Linked DNA regions of Homo sapiens: region 1 is linked to region 2. Evidence: fine-mapped expression QTL. A gene starts in region 2. The other region holds a variant in brackets. All regions are shown on one strand. Distances are between the middles of the regions. Region 1 overlaps IKBKB (inhibitor of nuclear factor kappa B kinase subunit beta). Region 2 holds the start of POLB (DNA polymerase beta).

What was found.
Region 1: its variant is fine-mapped to the expression of POLB in whole blood (TOPMed, PIP above 0.99).

What each region holds. Positions count from the first base shown.
Region 1 is chr8:42,281,325-42,292,480 of GRCh38, forward strand. It overlaps IKBKB (inhibitor of nuclear factor kappa B kinase subunit beta), which reads left to right. Exons shown (of 22, transcript NM_001556.3): 3 at 7,310-7,404; 4 at 8,832-8,949. Among named protein-coding and RNA genes, the nearest start is that of IKBKB, 16 kb to the left of the region's middle. The variant T/C (reference allele first, on the strand shown) is at 5,037.
Region 2 is chr8:42,334,301-42,345,456 of GRCh38, forward strand. It overlaps POLB (DNA polymerase beta), which reads left to right and starts at 4,194. Exons shown (of 14, transcript NM_002690.3): 1 at 4,194-4,385; 2 at 4,712-4,769; 3 at 10,653-10,719. The coding sequence starts at 4,325. It also overlaps the pseudogene RPL5P23.

The DNA.
Region 1 (11,156 bases), 53 kb before region 2:
TGTGGTCGGATGCTGTGTTTCATTTTAGCTGACATCCCTGGAGTGGATGGAGCCATCCCCATCTTATGGATGAGGACCCAGATGCTTGTACCATGGGCTTCTATCGCACCTTTACCAGGCGGTGGGGGAGGGAGTTACACCTGGACCTGCTTGTCTCCTGAGCCCGAGTGCCTGGCTTCTGTGGGTGAGGCGGCAGGCCACTGTGCCCCTTGGGGGTCTGCACTGTAGGGAGTAGGGTGAAGAAGTCATGGCCCTCTTAGCGTAGACCAGGCGATGCTGGGGCCCAGGGTCTGTCCAGTTACCTGCTGAGCCAGGGGTGAAACTGCAGCTGGATCCCGGACCTTTTTGGCTCCCAGCCCTGGGTCCTCCTGCCCAGTCTCTCTGGTCCCAGCCCTGCACCTCCTTTCTGAAGCATTCATTTCAGGGGGTGGGGTCTGAGAAGGAGGAGGAGGTTTTTACTAATTGCCCCCATGTCCACAGTGGCCTGGTTGGATGCTTGCCATGATAACGGGACACTGGGCTTTCTGCGCTAAGGGTCTAAACATGGCTCTTGGCCTCTGTGAGTTTCCCCTGAGTCGCTGGAAGAGGCAAACTTGAGGAAGCTGGGCCCCTTTTGTTTCTCCTGTGACTGGGTCTTCAGCTCGCATCTGCCAGGCACCTTTTGGTCTGAGGATGTGCTCCCCCTCTGCCTTTTTTACACCTTATGACACACATGCTTATATATAAGTTTTATGTTTACATGCATCAAAGGCAAGGAATTGCAAACTCTGAGGACCTTCATAATCACTACATTCAATCTGGACATACAGGGGACCCTTTCTCCGTTTTCTCAAAATACAGACCAGTTTTTTGTTGTTTTGTGTGTGTTTATTTTTTGAGACAGGGTCTCACTCCAGTAGTCCACGCTGGAGTGCAGCAGCATGATCACAGCTCAACGCAGGTCTCGCTCTATTGCCCAGCCTTGACTTCCGAGGGTCAGGAGATTCTCCCACCTCAGCCTCCCAAGTAGCTGGGACTACAGGCATCTACTACTATGCCTGGCTAGTTTTTAAAAATATTTTTAGTAGAGACAGAGTCTTGCCATATTGCCCAGGCTGGTCTCAAACCCCCGGGCTCTAGCGATCTACCTGCCTTGGTCTCCCAAAGTGCTGGGATTATAGGTGTGAGCCACCATGCCCAGCCACAAAGCAGTTTTAAGTTTTGTCCTTCACGAGGAGTTCATATACCAGAAGTTGGGTACTGAGATGGCGCAGGCCTAGTCTGGGTTTCCACAGAACTAAGCTAAGACTCAGTAGATTCCAGGAAAAATAAAGTAAGCCATCCTTCTTACCTTACATGTGTTTGAGTTCCACTGCTAGTGAAGAACAAACTCCCTGGGGTTTCAGAACCGGTGATCGTAGCCTGCTTCTGTTTTAATTGAATTTTGCTTTCTAGAGCAGGTATGTTTTTAGTAACAAAGTCATTCTGTTTGCATTTCTGTTTCAAATGAAACATTACTCATGGAAAAACTGGGAATATTTCGGAATACTTCCTAGAGGCAGATGAAGGCCACTGTGTTAGGAAAAGTTTAAGTATGTCTGTATCTACGCAGACCTTCCTAGGCCCAGGGAGTTAGGATTTCGCCTCAACTCTAGGGCGAAGCTGAGCTGTCTGTGAGTAGAAAGTTAGTTTTGGTATCTATGCCCAGTTATTTCAAGACTTGTTCAGTGTTCACATTGCTGAGTTCAGTCTTTTTAGTTTGCATTTGGATATTTAAGACCAATATCAAGTCTTCAGTATCAGAATCTCCTCCTGATTCTGGGTTGGGCCAAGTGACAGCTGTGTATCAGGTCCAGTGTTTGTGTTGGGCAAAAGACTGCAATTATCCAATTTGTAGCTAGACAGATTACCTAAAATCACTTAATAAACTAAGTCATCTAATCTATTTTTTGGATCTGATGATCTGTCCTGTTTCATTTATGATAGGTAGAATAATCCCCCCCAACCCCACCAAGAAATCTGGATCCTAATCCCTGAACCTATGACTGGGTGGGGCAGCATGGCAAAGGGAAATTAAGGTTGCAGATGAAATTAAGTTTTCTAATCAGCTGACCTTAGAGATTGGCCTGGCTTCCCTGGGGGTCCCAGTGTAATCCCAAGGGTTCTTAAACGTGGGAGAAGGAGGCAGCAGAGCCAGGGTCAGCCGATGCATGTGAGGAAGATGGCGGGACATGGCTGACACACGGATGGGCTAAGGGGCTACGAGCTGAAGAAAGTGGCGCTTCTAGAAGATGCAGAAGGAAAAGTAGGGAAACAGACTCTCCCCTAGAGCCTCTGGATGGAGCATAGCCCCACCAACATCTTAGCTCAGGGAGACCCACATCAGGCTTCAGCAGATAGAACTGCAAGGAAATAAAGTGTGTTATTTTAAGCCACCAAGTTTGTGGTAATTTATTACGGCAGCAATAGAAAACAAGTGCCCTCTTCTGTGTATTGAAGTTACGTTGCTGCAGATTTTTCAGTATCTTGGTTTAGTCTCAGTCATTCTAAGGTAACGAACCATAAGTTACAGTCTCTTTGGCTAAACCATTGCTTGGAATAGTGTCCATGGAAATGTTGCAGGGTGGATGGAGGTGGATAGATGCTCTTGGCAATGGCACCTCACGCTGCAGCGGGGCCATCGGTCTCTGTTTGTGGAACCCTGCGTTCCCCACGTCTGAGCTCCTCTGCAAACTCCGCCTAACTGGAGGCAAGTGTCTGTAGCAGTGTCTCAGTCGGCTCAGTGCTGCTATCACAGAGTAGCTGAGAATGGGTAATTTATAATGATTTTATTTCTCATAGTCCTAGAGGCTATGAAGTCCAAGGTCAAGGCATCATCATAGGGTGAAGGCGAAAGGGCAAGAGACAAAAGGGACCAAACTTGTCCTTTTATAACCATCAGTCCCACCTGGGATGCAGAGCCATTGTGGCCGAATTGCCCCTTAATACTGAGGTGATGTCCTGGCGCAGTGGCTCACACCTGTAATCCCAGCACTTTGGGAGGCCGAGACGGGTGGATCACGAGGTCAGGAGATGGAGACCATCGTGGCTAACATGGTGAAACCCCATCTCTACTAAAAATACAAAAAATTAGCCGGGCGTGGTGATGGGTGCCTGTAGTCCCAGCTACTAGGGAGGCTGAGGCAGGAGAATGGCGTGAACCCGGGAGGCGGAGCTTGCAGTGAGCCGAGGTCGTGCCACTGCACTCCAGCCTGGGCAACAAAGCGAGACTCCGTCTCAAAAAAAAAAAAAAAATACCGAGGTGATACTGCTACAACAGGAATTGGCTTTCATTGAATTATGGAAAACTGTGGAACTTAAGCCATAGCAGATATCGTCAGGCAGAGCTGCTGTGGATGAAGCTACCACAGAACTGGGCAAAAATGTGTCTGAGCACTGTGGGGAAGTGAAACCTGAAAGCAAATTCACGTCAGCCTGAGAACAGACCAGGAATCGGGAGGTACAGGGAGGTGTAACATGGTCTGCACATCAATTAAAGAAACGTTATTCTTTTTTTTTTTTTTTTTTTTTTGAGACAGAGTCTCACTCTGTCACCCAGGCTGGAGTGCAGTGGCACGATCTCGGTTCACTGCAACCTCTGACACCAGGGTTCAAGCGATTCTCCTGCCTCAGTCTCCCGAGTAGCTAGGATTACAGGCACCCACCATTGCACCCAGCTAATTTTTTATTTTTAGTAGAGATGGGGTTTCACCATGTTGGCCAGGCTGGTCTCGAACTCCTGACCTCAGGTGATCCACCTGCCTGGGCCTCCCAAAGTGCTGGGATTACAGGCATGAGCCACCGTGGCTGGCCAGAAATGTTATTCTTTTGACACATTCCCTAATTCTTGAAAAGCTTGAGATGGACTTGTGTCCACCATGGTTTGTACCACTGTACTAATCAGTTTAATAGCAACAAGGTGGCCGGGTGCAGGGGCTTAGGCCTGTAATCCCAGTGCTTAGAGAGGCTGAGGTAGGAGGACCACTTGAGGCCAGGAGTTTGAGACCAGCCTGGGCAACATAGTGAGACTCCGTCTCTACAAAAATAAAATAAAAATAAAAAAAATTAGCTGGACACAATGACACATGCTTGTAATCCCAGCTACTTGAAGCTGAGGTGGGAGGATCGCTTGAGCCCAGGAGTTTTAGGCAGCAGTGAGCTATGATCACTCCACTGCACTGCAGCCTGGGCAACAGAGTGAGACCCTGTCTCTAAAAAGAAAAAATAGCAACAGGTTTTACAATTGTTGAGAGAGGTCAGCTCTTGTTCAGAGAGCGCCTCAGAATCTAGGCCAAAGATCAGGGTTCTACTAGACAAAGAGAATGAGAAGGATACTTAGGGCAGAACCTGGATGCCCATGCCTACTGCCGCAGACTGGACTGAGGGGGTCTCCCATAGTCACAGACGTAAGCCTGTGGCTGCACCATGGGTGAGCCTTGGAAACAGTGCTCAGGGAAAGAAGCCTGTCACAAAAGGCCACATGATATATGATTCCATTTATATGAAATGTCCAGGACAGGCTAATCCGTAGAGACAGAAAGAGGTGGGTGGTTGCCTAGGACTAGAGGGGCTCGGGGAGTAGGGAGTGGCTGCTGATGGGTGTGGAGTTTTGTTGTGGGATGGCAGACATGTTCTAAAGTGTGCCGTGGTTTTGGTCTCACAACTCTTGAGTATGCCAGAAACTATTGAACTGTGTAATTTAATTGGATGAATTGTATGGTGCATGAATTATTCTCAATAGAGCTGTTAAAAAAAAGTAGGCATGCAAGGTCACCATCTGATGGAAAGCTTAGCCAAAGTGGTATTGGGCTTTGATGAAAGCAGCTTCTGAGAGTATTTTAGAAGTGTTGACAGTACCTCCTTTCTGGCATGGAGTCTGCTGTTCCATTTCCACCTTTTTTTCTGAAGCTTTTGGTTCTTGGTGTCGGTGTTAAGGATTGGTTTATTGGTCAGTGACTCAGTGGTCTTATTAGACAGCTTCTGGTGTATGTGGAGGTTTCCATTTTTCCTTTTCTTGC[T/C]GTGAAGGTCCTTGTTCCTGCAGGGATCCTGGCCAGTTTGGTAACTGTGAGACTGAGGTGGCTTGAGTGCCATGGGAACAGCCACACTGGGAGGCCTTGCCACAGTCCTCTGTGTGTCTTTTTTTGTTTTTGTTTTTGTTTTTGTTTTGAAACAGGGTCTTACTCTGTTGCCCAGATCTCCTGCAACCTCTGCCTCTTGGGCTTAAGCAATCCTCCCACCTCAGCCTCCTGAGTGGCTAAGACTACAGGTGCATGGCACCACACCTGGCTAATTTATGCATTTTTTTGTAGAGATGGGGTTTTGCCACGTTGCCCAGGCTGATCTGTGTGTCTTTTTAAGTCCCATTCAGTACCATGTCTGTTGCTCACTTACAAGATTTATGATTCTTTTCAGTTTGCATCTTCATAAACTGAGAAAACAGAAATTGGCCTAACAGGGCCTCTAGGACATCCTTCAAGTGAGCCACAGTAGAGTCTGGTACAATGCTGAAATCTTCTCCTACTGCTGGGTGCCCTGTGCCACCCTGCAGGTGTGGCTCTTGCCCAGGTGTGTGTGCGGGTAGGGAGTTTCGTGCTGTAGGTACACAGGAGGTGCAGGATGTTGGTGCAGGTCAGCTTGTTTAGCAGTGGCAGGATCGGCTCTCAGGCTGGGGCTCCGGGAGCTGCTGCCTTGGGCAGCTGCTGCCCCGCAGTTGTCTTGGAGACCCCCCCATAGCCAAAAGAGGTGACAGTGGTGCAGTGGTGACTCCCTTGTGGCAGCTGGAGTGCCCGAGGCCAGAGCCGCTTTCCCTGCTGCCCGTGCCACAGCCTCAGGGCCTGCCCGTCTCCAGTGTCCCCACTCATGCACCAGGGAGAAGAGGGGAGGCCGCCAGGAGCCAGTGGCTCAGCTCATGATTCACCAGGTGGAGGAGCCACCGCTGAGGATGCTGCTGGTTACCTCGATAGAGGTTAAAGCCCATGAAGATGGACAAGTCTATAATTTAACAAAGAGAAGAGAAAACAGCCTGTTACTCTGCAGAAAGTAACTCTTTGGCATGTGCACTGAAGGAATTACCTGTTACAGGAGTATAGCAGAGGGTGAGACCCTCTTGAGCTCGGCAGACCGTGGTGCCCATGCACCTGTGCTGGCAAGTGTAGCAGAGCAGGGCCAAGCGCCAGGGTGGGTGGGGCCGTCTGGCTGTAGTGTCGTGGGAAGAGTGGCTGGAAATGCAGATAGGAGCCAATCTCTGTAGGATGTTAAACAGGAGTACTCGGATGACCTGGGTTCCCTGCTCTGCAGGGTTACTAATACCTGCTAGAGGCTTGTTTTCAAGCCCTGAAAGATGGGTGTCAGTATTCCCATTTTACAGAAGAAACTGAGTCAGACCAAGTGGTTTACCCAAGGTCACACAGCTAGTAAATGGCACAGTTGGAATTTGAACCAGCCAGTGTTTCATCTGCTATATTATGCCATATTATGCTTGCGTTCTCTCTGAAAGGACAAAACTCTCACATGAAACAATGAAGACACTCAATGTGGTGTTCACTATTAGGTTGAACCACATGCAGGTGCCATTTTTGTAGGTCAATGTGGTCAATTATCAGCAGTGTCCCATGGGTCAGCCTAATACAGCAGCAGCCGGGGTTCGGACAGGGAAACCTCTCTGCGCAGGAATGGTCAGTAGAGGTTTCATGGCGGAGCTGGGAATGGAGCAGGGCCTTGAAGGCTCTGTAGACTCTGGATGGATAGAAATGAGGTGGGAGAGGCTGGGTGCGGTGGCTCACGTCTGTAATCCCAGCACATTGAGAGTGCGAGGCGGGCAGATCACTTGAGGTCAGGAATTCAAGACTAGCCTCACCAACATGGTGAAACCCCGTCTCTACTAAAAATACAAAAATTTGCCAGGTGTGGTTGCGCATGCCTGTAATCCCAGCTACTCAGGAGGCTGAGGCACAAGAATCACTTGAACACGGGAGGTGGAGTTTGCAGTGAGCTGAGATTGTGCCAGTGCACTTCAGCTTGGGCGACAGAGCAAGACTCCATCTCAAACAAAAAAAAAAAAAGAGAGAGAAAGAAATGAGGCTGGAGAGGTTGGGTGAGAGGTGGAGTGGTAAGGAGACAGCCCAAAGGGCAGGTGCTACGTGGCTGTCGATCAGGGTGTACATGTGACCTTGGAGCACCAGGAGGTGATTGCAGGTAACGCTTGGGGCCTGGAGACCCCTCCCATGCAGCAGACAGGGTGGGATTTGGCCTGCAGCTCGCTCTGCTGGTCCCCACTGTGCTGTTTCTGTAGGAAACAGGTGAGCAGATTGCCATCAAGCAGTGCCGGCAGGAGCTCAGCCCCCGGAACCGAGAGCGGTGGTGCCTGGAGATCCAGATCATGAGAAGGTGAGGGCCTCGCGCATAGGGACCCAAGGGAAAGCTGGAGCAGCAGCCCCCGGTGTGTCTAGAAAGGAGAGTCTTGCTGGGTGCGTGGCTCACGCCTGTAATCCTAGCACTTTGGAAGGCCAAGGCGGGCAGATCACGAGGTCAGGAGACTGAGACCATCCTGGCTAACATGGTGAAACCCCGTCTCTACTAAAAATACAAAAAATTAGCCGGGCATGGGTGGGCGCCTGTAGTCCCAGCTACAGAGAACACCAGGGAAGGGGGAAGGGCATGCTGCACACTCTGCTGGGATTACTCCAATGACAAGGAAACCCCGTCTCTACTAAAAATACAAAAAATTAGCCGGGCATGGTGGCGGGCGCTGTAGTCTCAGCCGCTCGGGTGGCTGAGGCAGGAGAATGGCGTGAACCCAGGAGGCGGAGCTTGCAGTGAGCCGAGATCAAGCCACTGCACTCCAGCCTGGGCAACAGAGCGAGACTCCGTCTAAAAAAAAGAGAAGAGAGTCTTAAATATCTGCCCCTCCATCAGGGCGCCAGCCTGGCAGTCTCCACGGTGACTCTGCTGCTTCTAAAGACACCAGAGGAAGAGCAGCTAAAGTCCACACTGGGCCTTGTCAAGGGCTGTTCATCAATTTCATTGTATTAAATAAGTTAACACAGTTATCACAGTGACTTTTCTTTTGTCAGCAAAAAAAGCCTTCTTTCCTCCTATATTTCCAGTTCCAAGGTGGTATGTGACCGTTCTCTGCTGTCATGCTGTCGCTGACATTTATTCCTCTAGTGTGGAGACGGGGCTGTCCATCTGCCTGGTGGCTGCTGACCCCCTAGCTAGTGAGGCGTGAGGTGGGCTCCGAAAGAGCCAGTGAGGAGGACACCAAGCAGGGGCTCCTCTGCCAGCCTCTTAAAAAGAGGAGGTGCTATTTGGTTATGTCATGGTTCCATTTGGTTACATGAGTTCCTTCTCAGACCCTTCTCTGTGTGTCCACCTTGGGGTGATGTGTGTGCGTGAACCAACCTGCCGAAAATTAAACAGACAAAAGAAAAAAAATATGAAAACAAAAAGAGCAGGCACCACCTTGTTTGCCTGCTTGCGTGTGTGACACATCCTCCCCATGTGGAGGGCATGAGATTGAAAGGTCCTTGTAGGAGCAGTTTGGCAGCACGATGAGGACTTGGGATGTGGCACGCACAAAAAACTGAAGTTACACGCAGTTGTGCCCTCAGGGTCTGAGTTCTGGTGCTGTGAGTGGGGCTGGGTGAGCGCCACTGACCCAGGCATTGCGGTTGGCCACCCGTCCTGGGCTCTGTCTTCCTCTGTTTCAAAGCCCTGGGTTATCCTGGGCCTTTGTTGCTGAGACCTGGTGGGGGTGGTGGGGATGGGTCTGGGCAGGAGCCTGGGTCTGCTCTCATCGGTTTTCCTCCTCCTAGGCTGACCCACCCCAATGTGGTGGCTGCCCGAGATGTCCCTGAGGGGATGCAGAACTTGGCGCCCAATGACCTGCCCCTGCTGGCCATGGAGTACTGCCAAGGAGGAGATCTCCGGAAGGTGAGGCTCCCACGGCTGCCAGGTGCACAGCCTGTCTGGGCAGGTGGGACACCAGGAAGAGGGATGGGGAGACCTTTCACTTCTGTCATCATCAGGAAGCTTGGGGAGCCCCAGTGACTCCAGCAGGGCTGCTTTGCCTCTCAGATCCTCTGTTCCCTGCCCACCTGGGGCTGGTGTGTGTGTGAGTCAGAGGCGCTTCCGAGAACACCAGGGAAGGGGTAAGGGCGTGCTGCACACTCTGCTGGGATTACTCCAATGACAAGGAAAACTCATCACAGGTCTGGGCGTGGGGAAGGACTGGGCAAGTTCCAAAACAAATGCTTCCTCCCTGGGCATGTTAGGGCCACGTTAGGCCTTTGGTGCCAGTGCCACTGCTCTCCTTATTAGGAGGGATTTTATTCTAGAGATGGGACAGCACCACACACGGGGGCAGGGAGCATAGCAGAGAGGGAGCAGGATTCATGATCAGAGAGCCGGGCCAGGGCTGCAGACCCGCCCCAATCCATCCGATCCACCTGACCCACCTGGACTCATCTGTGGGGCTCTATTCTCCACCTTCTCACCACACCACCTCCTCTTCCCTAGAATGTTCACTTCTGGTGGGTGGATGGCAGCCCCTCCTGGTCTCAGGGGCAGTTGGGTGCCCTCCTCCCCATTGTTCCCTATGACAGTACCACACAGCCTGCTAGTACATGTTACCTCATTCGATTTCCAAAAGCTCACACATGGGTGCACAGGTATGGTTCCCACATGATGGGTGGATGTCATGGCCCAGAGAGGTTGGGCCTCACACAGCTGTAGCAGCAGAGCCTGGGTCCCAGCCCACACAGACCCAGCTGCAGGCCACCTCTCCATCTCTGAGGCTGAATAAGGCCATATAACATTATGAAAACTGGAAGCTCTGAACAAAATAATTTTTTTTTTTGAGACAAGAGTCTCGCTGTATTGCCCAGGCTGGAGTGCAGTGGCGTGATCTCGGCTCACTGTAACCTCCATCTCCTGGGTCCACGTGATTCTCCTGCCTCACCCTCCCGAGTAGCTGGGATTATAGGCGCCCGCCCCCACGCCTGGCTAATTTTTGTATTTTTAGTAGAGGCAGGGTTTCGCCACATCAGCCAGGCTGGTCTCCAACTCCTGACTTCAAATGATCACCCACCTCAGGCTCCCAAAGTGCTGGGATTACAGGTGTGAGCCACTGCGCCCAGCCAACAACAATTTTTATTTTAATTGAAAAAGAGGTCGGTTGCTCTGCGAGTGCACCTCTTCACTCCAGAAGGGTCACAATAGTGGGGGCGGGAGCCCAGGCGTTTATTCCTGTTCAGTGGCCATTCCCAGACACACTTCAGGTGCTGTTCTCACTGTTCCTCCAGGCCCTTGTGCCTCTTAAAAAAAAATTTTTTTTTCCACTTTGGAAAGCTGAGACAGGAGAATAGCTTGAGGCCAGGAGTTTGAGACCAGCCTGGGCAACATACCAAGGCCCTGTCTCCTCAAAAAATAAAAAATGAAAAATTAGCCAGATGTGGTGGTGTGCGCTTGTGGTCCCTACTACTTTGGAGGCTGGGGTGGGAGGATGGCTTAAGCCTGGGAGGTTGAGGCTACGGTGAGCTATGATTGTGCCACTGCATGCCAGCCTGGGTGACAGAGCAAGACTCAGTCTCAAGAAAAAAGATAATCCTGTCTCAGAACAAAGAGACAGATAAATAAAATAAAAGAAACTTTCCATGGGGCTTGGCGTGCTGGAGTGGCTCTCCCTGGAGATAGGCATGTCCTGGGAGTGGCACTCACAGCAGGATATGAACACAGCCCTTGGCATCACCCACAATGAGAGATGGGGGAACTCAACAGCACTTCGATTTTCTCCTTATTTTTCTAACCTTTGACAGTCACCCATTACTAACTGCAGCTGTGTAGAGATAAAGCCATGTTGTAGTCAAGTGGAGACTTCTCAGAGGGCAGTCTGGAAGTAGGTGGGATGTGGCCAGATTACAGAGGGCTCTGAAGTGAGGCAGAGGCTTTTAGACTTGGTCTTTTAGGTGGCAAAGAGCCAACGAGCCAGGGAAGAAGAGATCGAAAGTTTAACATGACTGGCCTGGCGTGGGTTGCAGGATGATTGAGGGGGAGGCAGGAAGGGCTCGCATCCTAAGGGACCCCTGTCCTTGCTGTCACCCAGCGGGGTTGGGGGAGGACACTGTTGCCCAGTGTCTTGT
Region 2 (11,156 bases):
TTCTGAAAGGGAAAATTGGAAGGGATAAAGAAGTCACCATTCCCAACCAATTTTGATCTAGCAGAGAAAATTCCATTAGGATTCAAGGCCTGCAAATAATTCCCTAGCTTGAAGTGCCGCCCACTGGGCCCACAACAGTTGTGCAGACCTTTGTGTCTGCTCACAGCAGAACCATGGGCCTCTCTGTACCCATGGTGGCTCCATAGGCCTCTGAGTCTGTGCTCACAGTGACCTCATAGGCCTGTGTCTCTGCATCCATCACTTCTGTCTGCTCCTCTGGCCTCTGCCTCTGTGCCCCTGGCTCTGCCCTTGGAGTCATTCTTGCTTTTTCTTGAAGGATCGCATGTTTGCAGCCCAGTAGCTCTATCAGCCCATTTCTTGCCCGTAGCAGTTTGGATTTCAACAGCCTTTTCTCATTTCACACTGTCTCTGTCACTTCCAGGCTAAGCTGTCTCTGCTGATGTAACATTCTCAAAAATCTTGTGGGTCCCCTGTGTAATGTCATGGAGTTCAATGCCATTAGACAAGAGGGTCCTCCACAAATTTTCTGGGATAATCCCATCTCTATTCCTGACTTCTACTGAGATGGTTGAATGAGTCCAAGAGTCCCATGCTTCATCTCTTCGTGCCACCACACCCAGTACATTTTTCTTATTTTTGTAAAAGAGATGGGGTCTCGCCATGTTGCCCAGTCTGGTCTTGAACTCCTGGGCTCGATCCTCCTGCCTCCACCTCCCAGAGTGCTGGGATTACAGGTGGCCGTGTTTGACACTTCAGCAAAACTGCAATTTAAGTTATTAACTTTATTGAGTACTTACGTGGAAACAAAAATTAAGTCCCTTCTCCCGTGGAGCTGGCATTGCACATTGGTGGGAGGAGGAGTGAGCAGGGAGTGCATAATGTGCAACCACGTGTGAATATTTCCAGTCCTTCTTAGTACTGTGAAGGAAACACACAAGTAAAAACCTGGGCCTGGTCCAGGAACGTGACAAGGGTGTGACTGCCAGGCTGGGACCTGAATGATGAGAAGAAGGCAGCCAGGGAAAGAACCATACAATGAGGGGACAATGCTGAGCAGGCACATGTATGTATGAAATATGGGCGTGTGTGTGTCCTAAACAATGAGAAAAGTGGCAAGAAATGCAGTAGGAGAGCAGGCAGGAGGTGGATCACATAAGGCCTTGTGGGCCATGAAAAGGAGCTTGGATTTTTTTTTTTTTTTTTTTTTTTTTTTGGAGACTCACTCTTGTTGCCCAGGCTGGAGTGCAGTGGCCCGATCTTGGCTCACTGCAACCTCCACCTCCAGGGTTCAACCTCCCTGCCTCAACTTCCCAAGTAGCTGGGATTACAGGCGCCCACCACCACGCCTGGCTAATTTTTGTATTTTTAGTAGAAATGGGGTTTCACCATGTTGGCCAGGCTGACCTTGAACTCCTGACCTCAGGTGATCCGCCTGCCTCAGCCTCCCAAAGTGCTGGAATTACAGGTGTGAGCCACTGCGCCCCGCCAGGAGCTTGGATTTTATCCTAAGTGCAGTGGGAGGGTGTATAAATAGGGACATATTTTGATACTACATCCTAAAAAGATCACCCTCTGTTTGGGGAATATTCTATAAGAGGACAAGAGCAGAAGCAGGAAGCCCACTGAGGAGGCTTTGGTAACAGTTCAGGAGGTCATGGGAGTTTGATCTAGGGCAGTGGCAGCTCGGGATGAGAGGTCATCCAGTTCAGCACATATTCCTGAGACAGAACAGACAAGGTCTGCTGGCAGACGGGATGTGGGGTGTGAAAAGAGCAATTAAAAATGACTCTTATGGGTTTGGCCTGATAGCAGGGTGGATTAAAATGCTATTAACTGAGATGGGGGAAAGTTAAGGAGAAGCTGGTGGGGCAAGAGTCAGGAGTTCTTTAGGACATTTTATCTTTGAGATGCCTATTATGGACTAGAGCTATCCAGTAGACAGCCTGATGTATGAGACTGGAACTCAAGGGAGAGGTCAAGACTTGAACTATGAGTTTAGGAGACTTTCAAGCTAGACATGCCATTTAAACAGGTAAAACTGGACAAGTTGGAAAAGCTGGTTAGAAGACTGAAGTGTGAAGCCATTTCCCATAAAGGCTGGAGAGTGGAGGAGGAGCTGGGAACCAGTGCTCAGGCGCACATGTGCGCACACACACACCCTGCTGAGGACTGGCCAGTGAGGAAAAAGGAAGCCCAGAGCATGTGGAATCTTAGAAGCCAATTGAAGCAAGTTATTTCAAGAAGAACTTTGTGAAGCAGATCAAATGTCGGTTGTTCTAAGACGATAAGGACAGATAATGGATTATTTTCCTTGGTTTCTCTGGCACTAATTTTAAAAATATAGTATTTGTAAAAATGGGCTAGGTGCAGTGGCTCACGCCTGTAATCTAGCACTTTAATAGGCCAAGGCGGGTGGATCACTTGAGGTCAGGGGTTTGAGACCAGCCTGGCCAACATGGTGAAACCCCATCTCTACTAAAAATACAAAAATTAGCTGGGCATGGTGGCAGGATCCTGTAATCCCAGCTACTCGGGAGGCTGAGGCAGGAGAATCACTTGAACCCGGGAGGCAGAGGTTGCAGTGAGCCGAGATCGTGCCATTGCACTCTGGCCTGCGGGACAAGAGTGAAACTCTGTCTCAAAACAAAAAAATTTGTAAAACTGATCCCACAATTCCCTACATTTGTAACTTTTAAAATTCAGAGGTAAATACATTTTTATTTAAGGAGGAATAATTCTTCAGAGCAAAATAATCTGAATATCACCTGGAATAGAGATTGGACAGAAAAAAGTGTGAACAGGGAAAACTAGGACAAGTCATATATGTAAATGAGAGTATAAAGAGTAAATGAGAGTGGTCACTGCTCACTGCAGCTTAACTAATCAGATAGTTAAGTTGCAGGCATAAAGTTTTTTTAACTTTTATTCCTCAAGTAATAAATTGAGGAAAATACAAATATGTACAAAATTTTTACAAAAGCTATCCATAAAAGGGCAAGTAGTAATATATAGAAAAGATCTACCAGATTAGTAACAAACTACCCCCATTAGGAAAATGGTAAATGATATGAATAGGAAATTCAAAAAAAGAAGAATTACAGATTTCCAATAAGCATAACTTAAGATATACACTGATATTGTAAGGAAACACAATCACCACAACCTTGCTAATCAAAGAAACTAATGATATTTATTGGAAAATAATGGGAATTTTTAATAGACTGGGTTAGAAGACTAGAAGTGTACGTCCCAAAATATTAATAGTTCAGCTGTAGGGTGAGATCACTGATTTTAATTTTCTCCTTTTATACATTTTTCCAGATTTCTCTACAGCAACTACGTATCATTTTGTAATAAATTTTAATTTTTCGATGCACAAAGCAATTGCCTGGAATTGCAGTTCGATATGAACCCAGGAGTTACGCTTGTAAAATAAACTATTGCTGATGTGACATTTCCATTTCTCAAGCAGACTGTAAATTTCTCAGATGTAGGTCATCATGTTATAATTAGGGTTCCATTGCTCATGATCTAGATGAAACACTTCTCCCTTTCTTGTGGTCTCTTCATTAATTTGGTCCCTACCGCAAAGGCAGGGGGATTAAAAATAAAATATCTTTTGACACTGGTTGGCAGGTGTACTAACACGTGTGCGGGAGGATTCCTGTTCTCGGCATGGTTCACGCCGGGCTCCGGCAGCGCCCTAGTACGTAAGGGGCTGCACTGGAGTGTGGACTGCCCGGTATCCTTAGAGAAAGTTTTGACAGTGTGACGCCAGTGTCGCCTCTAACCACGTACAAAACGCGCCATGCATTGGGTAGCTATTACAGTGCACATTTTTGTGCAGGAAGCTACCCCACCAGCGCAAGTATTTCAGAATCAAGATCGCACTCCCGTTTCCCCTTCTAGGGAAAGGATTCCAGATAAACACTGAGAAAACAGATTTAATATCTTAGGTCAAAACTCCAGGTCTTCCCATAGGAAGGCCCCTGGGCTGTCATTCTGAGGTGCCTATTTCCCCCGCGCCGTGTCCACGTCCACGAGTCCACGAACCCTCCGAGTTCTCTCTCCTCACCTGCCGAGGGCTCGCCCCTCTAGCCCCGCCCCGCCCCGCCCAGGACGCGTGACGTCACAACAAGCGCCGTGCGCCCCGCCCCCCATCGGGGGCAACCATTGTTCCGCCGGTCGCGCCGGAGCTGGGTTGCTCCTGCTCCCGTCTCCAAGTCCTGGTACCTCCTTCAAGCTGGGAGAGGGCTCTAGTCCCTGGTTCTGAACACTCTGGGGTTCTCGGGTGCAGGCCGCCATGAGCAAACGGAAGGCGCCGCAGGAGACTCTCAACGGGGGAATCACCGACATGCTCACAGGTTAGCACCGGGCCGGGCCCCGCTGGCTTTCTTCTTTCCTTCCAGCCTCTTCCCCTGCCTTCCTTCTCTCCCACACCGACAGTCCAGTGGGTAGGGTAGGTTCCTTGCAGCGGGTCGTCTTCCGTGGGGATCTCCCTCCGGCGCCCCTGGCTGGTTGTCAGTCCTGCCGGCTACACCTGGGCCATCGCTTGGGCTGCTTTTGGTCTGGCCCTTGGAGGAAACGGGTGGTCACTGTCTCTTAGAGGCTGCCATATCCCCTTCCAGAAAACAGTTCTCGTTTGTTTACTCGTGGTTCTTGTTCACCCGAGCCTTCTGTTGCCTTTCAGAACTCGCAAACTTTGAGAAGAACGTGAGCCAAGCTATCCACAAGTACAATGCTTACAGGTGGGACAGTGCAGCATTCTCGGGTAGCATACGTTCTGGGATACCCTGTTTAGTGTGGCAATTAACAGGACTGAGGGCCCAGTGGATATTTGGTCCATCTGCAAGAGCGGGAAAAAGCAAGAATCGAGGCTGGTACCTTACTATTTCTTGAAGAATGTGGGCAGTGCGTTATAGGATCAGTTCAGATAAGTTCCCAATTCTGATTGCAGATAGCTGTAGCCTGATACGTATTTTGTCATCATCAAACATGAATTACTAGAAATGCGGTGTAATTTTAACCGTAATGAAAGACAGCGGATGAAGTCCATACTGTGAAATATATGTGGTTCAAGGAATCACATTTTTTCTTTTGGTTGGTCTAAAGTTGATCCTGTGGGATCCTGATCCTGATCCTTGTTCCTTGTTCATGGGATCCTGTCCTTGTTCATCTCACCAGGGGCCTTATCCTATTCATTCTTTCCACATCCACCTGCTTCTACTCCTTAGCCTATATTTATTTATTTATTTATTTTTATTTGAGACGGGGTCTCGCTGTGGTATGATCATGGCTCATTGCAGCTTCAACCTTCCAGCCTCAAGTGATCTTCCCATCTCAGCCTCCTGAGTGGCTGGGACTACTACAGGCGCACGCCACCACACCCAGCTAATTTTTTTTTCTTTCTTTTTTTTTCTTTTTTTTTTTGTAGAGACCGGGTTTTGCTATGTTGCCCAGGCTGATCTCCAACTCCTAAACTCAAATGGTCCACACACCTTGGTCTCCCAGAGTGCTGGGATTCCAGGCATCAGCCTCGGTGTCAGCTCTCCTTAGCCTATAAATATGTGCAAGTCCCTCAGCTCTTAAAAGCAAAACCAAAACAATCTTAACTTCCCTCTAGCTAGCACCTTCCCTCTTTTCTCACTTTATGGTGAATCTTCTTGAAAAATCTTCATTCCTTGCCTGGACTTCTTAATACCTAATCATTTACTCAAGAAGTCCCAGTCCTTGCCTGGACCTACCAGTGCTCTGAAAATCCGCTCACCTACGTCTCATCTTATTGGACTCTCTGTGGCATTCACCCCTGGCTCATGCTGTGAATATCTCTTGACTTCTGTAATGGCACTCTTTCTGGTCTTTCATCTCTTCTTCTGTCTTACCTTTTAATGTTGGTATAGGTTGAGCATCCCTAATCTGAAAATTTGAAATGCTCTAAAATCTGGATGATTGCCGACATGATGACACAAGTGGAAAATTCCACATCCGATCTCATGTAGTAGGTGGCAGTCAAAATGGTCAAAACTTTGTTTCATGCACAAAATTATTAAAACGACTATATAAGATTACCTTCAGGGTATGTGCGTAAGGTGTGTGAGAAATATGACTGAATTTTGTATTTAGACTTGTATCTCCCATATCCCTAAGATATCTTATTATGTATACGCAAATATTCCAAACCCTGAAAAAAATTCAAAATCTGAAACAATGCTGGTCCCAGGCATTTCAGATAAGGGATAGTTAACCTGTGGTTCCGGGGAGTCTGCCTGCCCTTAGCCCTCTTTTCTTACTTCTGTAGTTTCCCTGGCAATCTTGCCATTCTTGACTTTGAAATGCCACTTATGTCAGTGACTCCAAATCTGTGTATCACTGGACTTTTTTCCACATTTTTAGCCCTATACTGTCTTTATCCCAAGTCAGCTCCCTTCTTCCATTCCCACTCCACACAGTTCAGAGCTGATTGTGCTCCCTCCTTTCCTTACTTCTGTGACTTCCTCTGTAAAGTAAAATAATTGTATTATCATCCATACATTTGATGATTCAAAATTACAGAGATATTCAACTTTGTATTCTATTTGGATCACAGCAGGTCTCAGAAAGGAGGTGTTTAGTTTGAAGAAGCTCATCGGGATAAGTGAGAGGGCCAGCAGTCTAGACAAATAAAATGTGCCAAAGCATTGAGACATGAAGGGTATAACGTTTTCTGGAAGTCAGATGTTCAGTTTGCTTAACGGGTATGGTATGAGTGGGAAATAAGTCTGGAAAAGCAGGTGATTCCCTACCACTCCTGCATGCTCCTCCCTACCCCAGTAGACATTTCTGTTGATTGTGGCCAAAGTATTCTTTTGAAAATAGTTATCTGATCTTGTCAGTCAAATAATTAAATAATATTTTCTCTTTACCTTGATAAAACCCAAATACATCATAGCATACAAAAGGCCTTTCATCTGATTCTTCTTCCCTTTTAGGCTTTGCCTCACAGTGCCAATGACCTGGAACTACTTGCCTTTCCTGAAATGATCCCCTCCATAAACTGTGTTTGCCTGCTCCTTTACTTATAAATATGTCTTTTCAGATTCATCATCAGTCATGTGCTTAGAGAGAAGTTCAAATCCAAATATAAAGGGTTATTTGTGCTATAACAGAATGCAAATCCAAGGTTCCAAAGACTATCCAGTGTTTATGCTTTTGACTTAGCTGTACTGTCACTTCTCATCAGCATCAACTCTGAATTACATTTTGCATTGAAATTATAGACAGAATACCGTCAGCGAGCTCCCAGGGTGTATCCAATCTGTCACCAGATTAACAAACTGGATATGTGTGGAGGTGGGCAAGAATTACAGGTCACCGCTTTATGCTGAACTGCAGTGGGAACAATTTTTTTTTTCTGTCCATAAGTTTATTGTCTTTATCTGAAAAATCCTCGTAGAAAATTGTTTGGTTTAGCTCTCTGCAGCCCCCTCCTGAGCCGTGGGGAAGCTTGCCTTCTTTTGAGCTATGCGATCTTTCTTCTGAGCAAGGGACATTTTGGGATGGTTCCACCTCTTTTTAACTTCTTTCTTGAGCTTCTTTTCATAGACTGGATTCTCTCCTATAGCAGCATGAGCTTTCATCTCCTTCATCATGTCTGAAGTTATGCTATTCTTTATGTATTGAGAGAACTGTTTCTTGTAAGCATCTTTATCTTCCATTAAGTAGTGCATGTAATCTGCAACATTCTGGCCTATGTTGTGCTTCTGGTGTAATTCTGCATTGAATTCCTTGCTTTCAGAATCATAACCAGGGAATCATTTGGTACTTTGAGGGATAGACAAGCCTCCATCCAGGTCACCAAAAACTTTATTGCCAGTGGTAGTTCTGGCAAGGCCTGCATCCAAATAGCAGGTGAAAGCACCTGGCTGACCATCAATGCTTTCTACATTGTATTATCGCCAGTCACCTCCACTTGGCCTTCATAGATCTTGTCCATGCCAAACCTATTGAGAAGCCTGTGGGCCAGCAGCAGGCCAGTACAATATGTTGCAGCATAATTTGTCAGGCCAACCTTCACACCATATTTTGGCAGTTCGTGTGCATATGCTGCGCAGACTATCATATCCCCCTCTATACGGGCATAAGCAATCTGACAATTGATATCTCTGTTTGTTATATGAACTATCATCCTCTATTTGGGTGTGTTGTATTTATTTTTATCCTGTATTACCAAGCGTTTCTGAGCATAGTAATCAGTTTTACCATCTTGTCATCTTTAAGTTTCATTTGGTATCTCTTAAAGTAGGCCTTATTCTTAACAACTTTAACAAAGTCCATCCTGTGGAACAGAGACCTGCAGGCCCAGCAGCACTAGGGGGTGGAAAGGCGGGAGCAATTTTTAAAAACTGATGTAGGGGCCAGGCACAGTGGCTCACGTCTGTAATCCCACCACTTTGGGATGCCAAGGCGGGTGGATGGCATGAACCCAGGAGTTCAAGACCAACCTGGGCAACATAGCAACATCCCATCTGCATTAAAAAAAAATAAATTGATATAGGGACATAAGGGAATGCAGTTTGAAACTATGAATTTTAAAATAGCTATCCAAGGGCTGCGTGTGGTGGCTCATGCCTGTAATCCTAGCACTTTGGGAGACCGAGGCAGGTGGATCATTTGAGGTCAGGAGTTGGAAACCAGCCTGGCCAACATGGTGAAGACCTGTCTCTACTAAAAATATAAAATTGGCTGGGCGCAGTGGCTAACGCCTGTAATCCCAGCACTTTGGGAGGCCAAGGCAGGCAGATCACGAGGTCAGGAGATCGAGACCATCCTGGCTAACATGGTGAAACCCCGTCTTTACTAAAAATGCAAAAAATTAGCCAGGCGTGGTGGCGGGTGCCTGTAGTCCCAGCTACTCAGGAGGCTGAGGCAGGAGAATGGCATGAACCCGGGAGGCGGAGCTTGCAGTGAGCCGAGATTGCGCCACTGCACTCCAGTCTGGGAGACAGAGCAAGACTGCGTCTCAAAAAAAAAAAAAAAAAAAAAAAAATATATATATATATATATATATATACACAAAATTAGCCAGGTGTGGTAGCATACACCTGTTATCCCAGCTACTCAGGAGGCTAAGGCAGGATAATTGCTTGAACCTGGGAGGCAGAGGCTACAGTGAGTCAAGATGGCGCCACTGCACTCCAGCCTGGGTGACTCCATCTCAAAAAAAAAGTAACATAGGTATCCATAAGCAGATCTGGTGTCTAATAATTCACATGTGGCACATTTTTATGAGGAAGTTATGAACAATTTCTAAAAACTAGCTATTTTAAAAAAGGGGGCCCAATGATGATTTCTACTTACTCCCAAAGAAAGACAGCTGGTCTCCCCATCCCTTGAGTATTATGTATACAGTTTAAATCACTTTGTTACTCAGCACAAATCAAAACAAATCACTTTGTTACTCAGTACAAATCATACTCTTTGACGTATAGAGTTTAAATTCAGTTATTCTCAAATGTGGAGCTTTTCAAGATACTTTAAAAGTTAGACGTAGGCCAGGCGTGGTGGCTCACGCCTGTAACCCAGAACTTTTGGAGGCCAAGGTGGGCAGATCACAAGGTCAGGAGTTCGGGATGAGCCTGGCCAACATGGTGAAACCCTGTCTGTACTAAAAATACAAAAAAATTAGCCAGATGTGGTGGCGCATGCCTGTAATCCCAGCTACTCAGGAGGCTGAGGTAGGAGGATTGCTTAAACCTGGGAAGCGGAGGTGACAGTGAGCTGAGATCACGCCACTGCACTCCAGACTGGGCGACAGACTGGGCGAGACTCCGTCTCAAAAAAAAAAAAAAAAAAAAAAAAAGTGGCCGGGAGTGGTGGTTCACGCCTGTAATCCTAGCTGGTTCACACCTGTAATCCTAGCTTTCTTTGGGAGGCTGAGGCGGGTGGATCACCTGAGGTCAGAGTTTGAGACCAGCCTGGCCAACATGGAGAAACCCTGTCTCTACTAAAAATGCAAAAAATTAGCCAGGCATGGTGGCGGGTACCTATAATCCCAGCAACTTGGGAAGCTAAGGCAGGAGAATCGCTTGAACCCCAGAGGCGGAGGTTGTGGTGAGCCGAGATTGCGCCATTGCACTCCAGCCTGGGCAACAAGAGCAAAACTCCATCTCAAAAAAAAAAAAAAAGTTAGACATATATTAGGTGGTCTGTCAGCTCATCTGATTTTTAAGTTCCATATGGAGGTAGAAAATTAGGCCAGGCGCAGTGGCTCACTCCTGTAATCCCCGCACTTTGGGAGGCCAAGGCAGGTGGATCACGAGGTCAGGAGATCGAGACCATCCTGGCCAACATGGTGAAACATCATCTCCACTAAAATACAAGAAGGCGCGCCTGTAGTCCCAGCTACTCGGGAGGCTGAGGCAAGGGAATCACTTGAACCCGGGAGGCGGAGGTTCCAGTGAGCTGAGATCGCGCTGCTGCACTCCAGCCTGGCAACAGAGGGAGACTGTCTCAAAAAAAACAAAAAAAAAGAAAATTAGTTATCTTGGTGAAAGCATAAGCATAGATATTTGCTTGTATATGTATTCCAGTTTAAGAAAAATTAAGGCCTTGATGGATTTCTAATTGGTTTTCCTTTTCTTCTTTCCTTATAGAAAAGCAGCATCTGTTATAGCAAAATACCCACACAAAATAAAGAGTGGAGCTGAAGCTAAGAAATTGGTAAGTTTAGTTAGCATGTTGATCGAAGAGTTCACACGTGTCCAAATTTGGTGGGTTCCCACCAAACCAAACTTGCCTGTCTGAAGCAGCCTTGACCCACACAGGCTGATTTCACTACTCCTGATTTCTTGGAATAACATTCATGCTGTTTCATACACACTTTTTCAAGCTCAAAATGTTTTCATTTGGGAGAAGATGGGTTAAAATTTTTAAAAATATATGTAATTACAGTTTTCTTTCTCTCTGTTACAATATATACATGTACTCACGTTGAATTTCAACTTGAGTGTTGGTTTTTAAGAAGAGTGACCAAGTGGCACTAGCATATCTGGTCCCACCTATTTTTCTCTGATCCCCAGGTGTAGGAACCTATGTGAGTTAGTGGGAGTGCGTGTTCCCCAGAGAGATCTTACTAATAAGCACATGATTAAGACCCT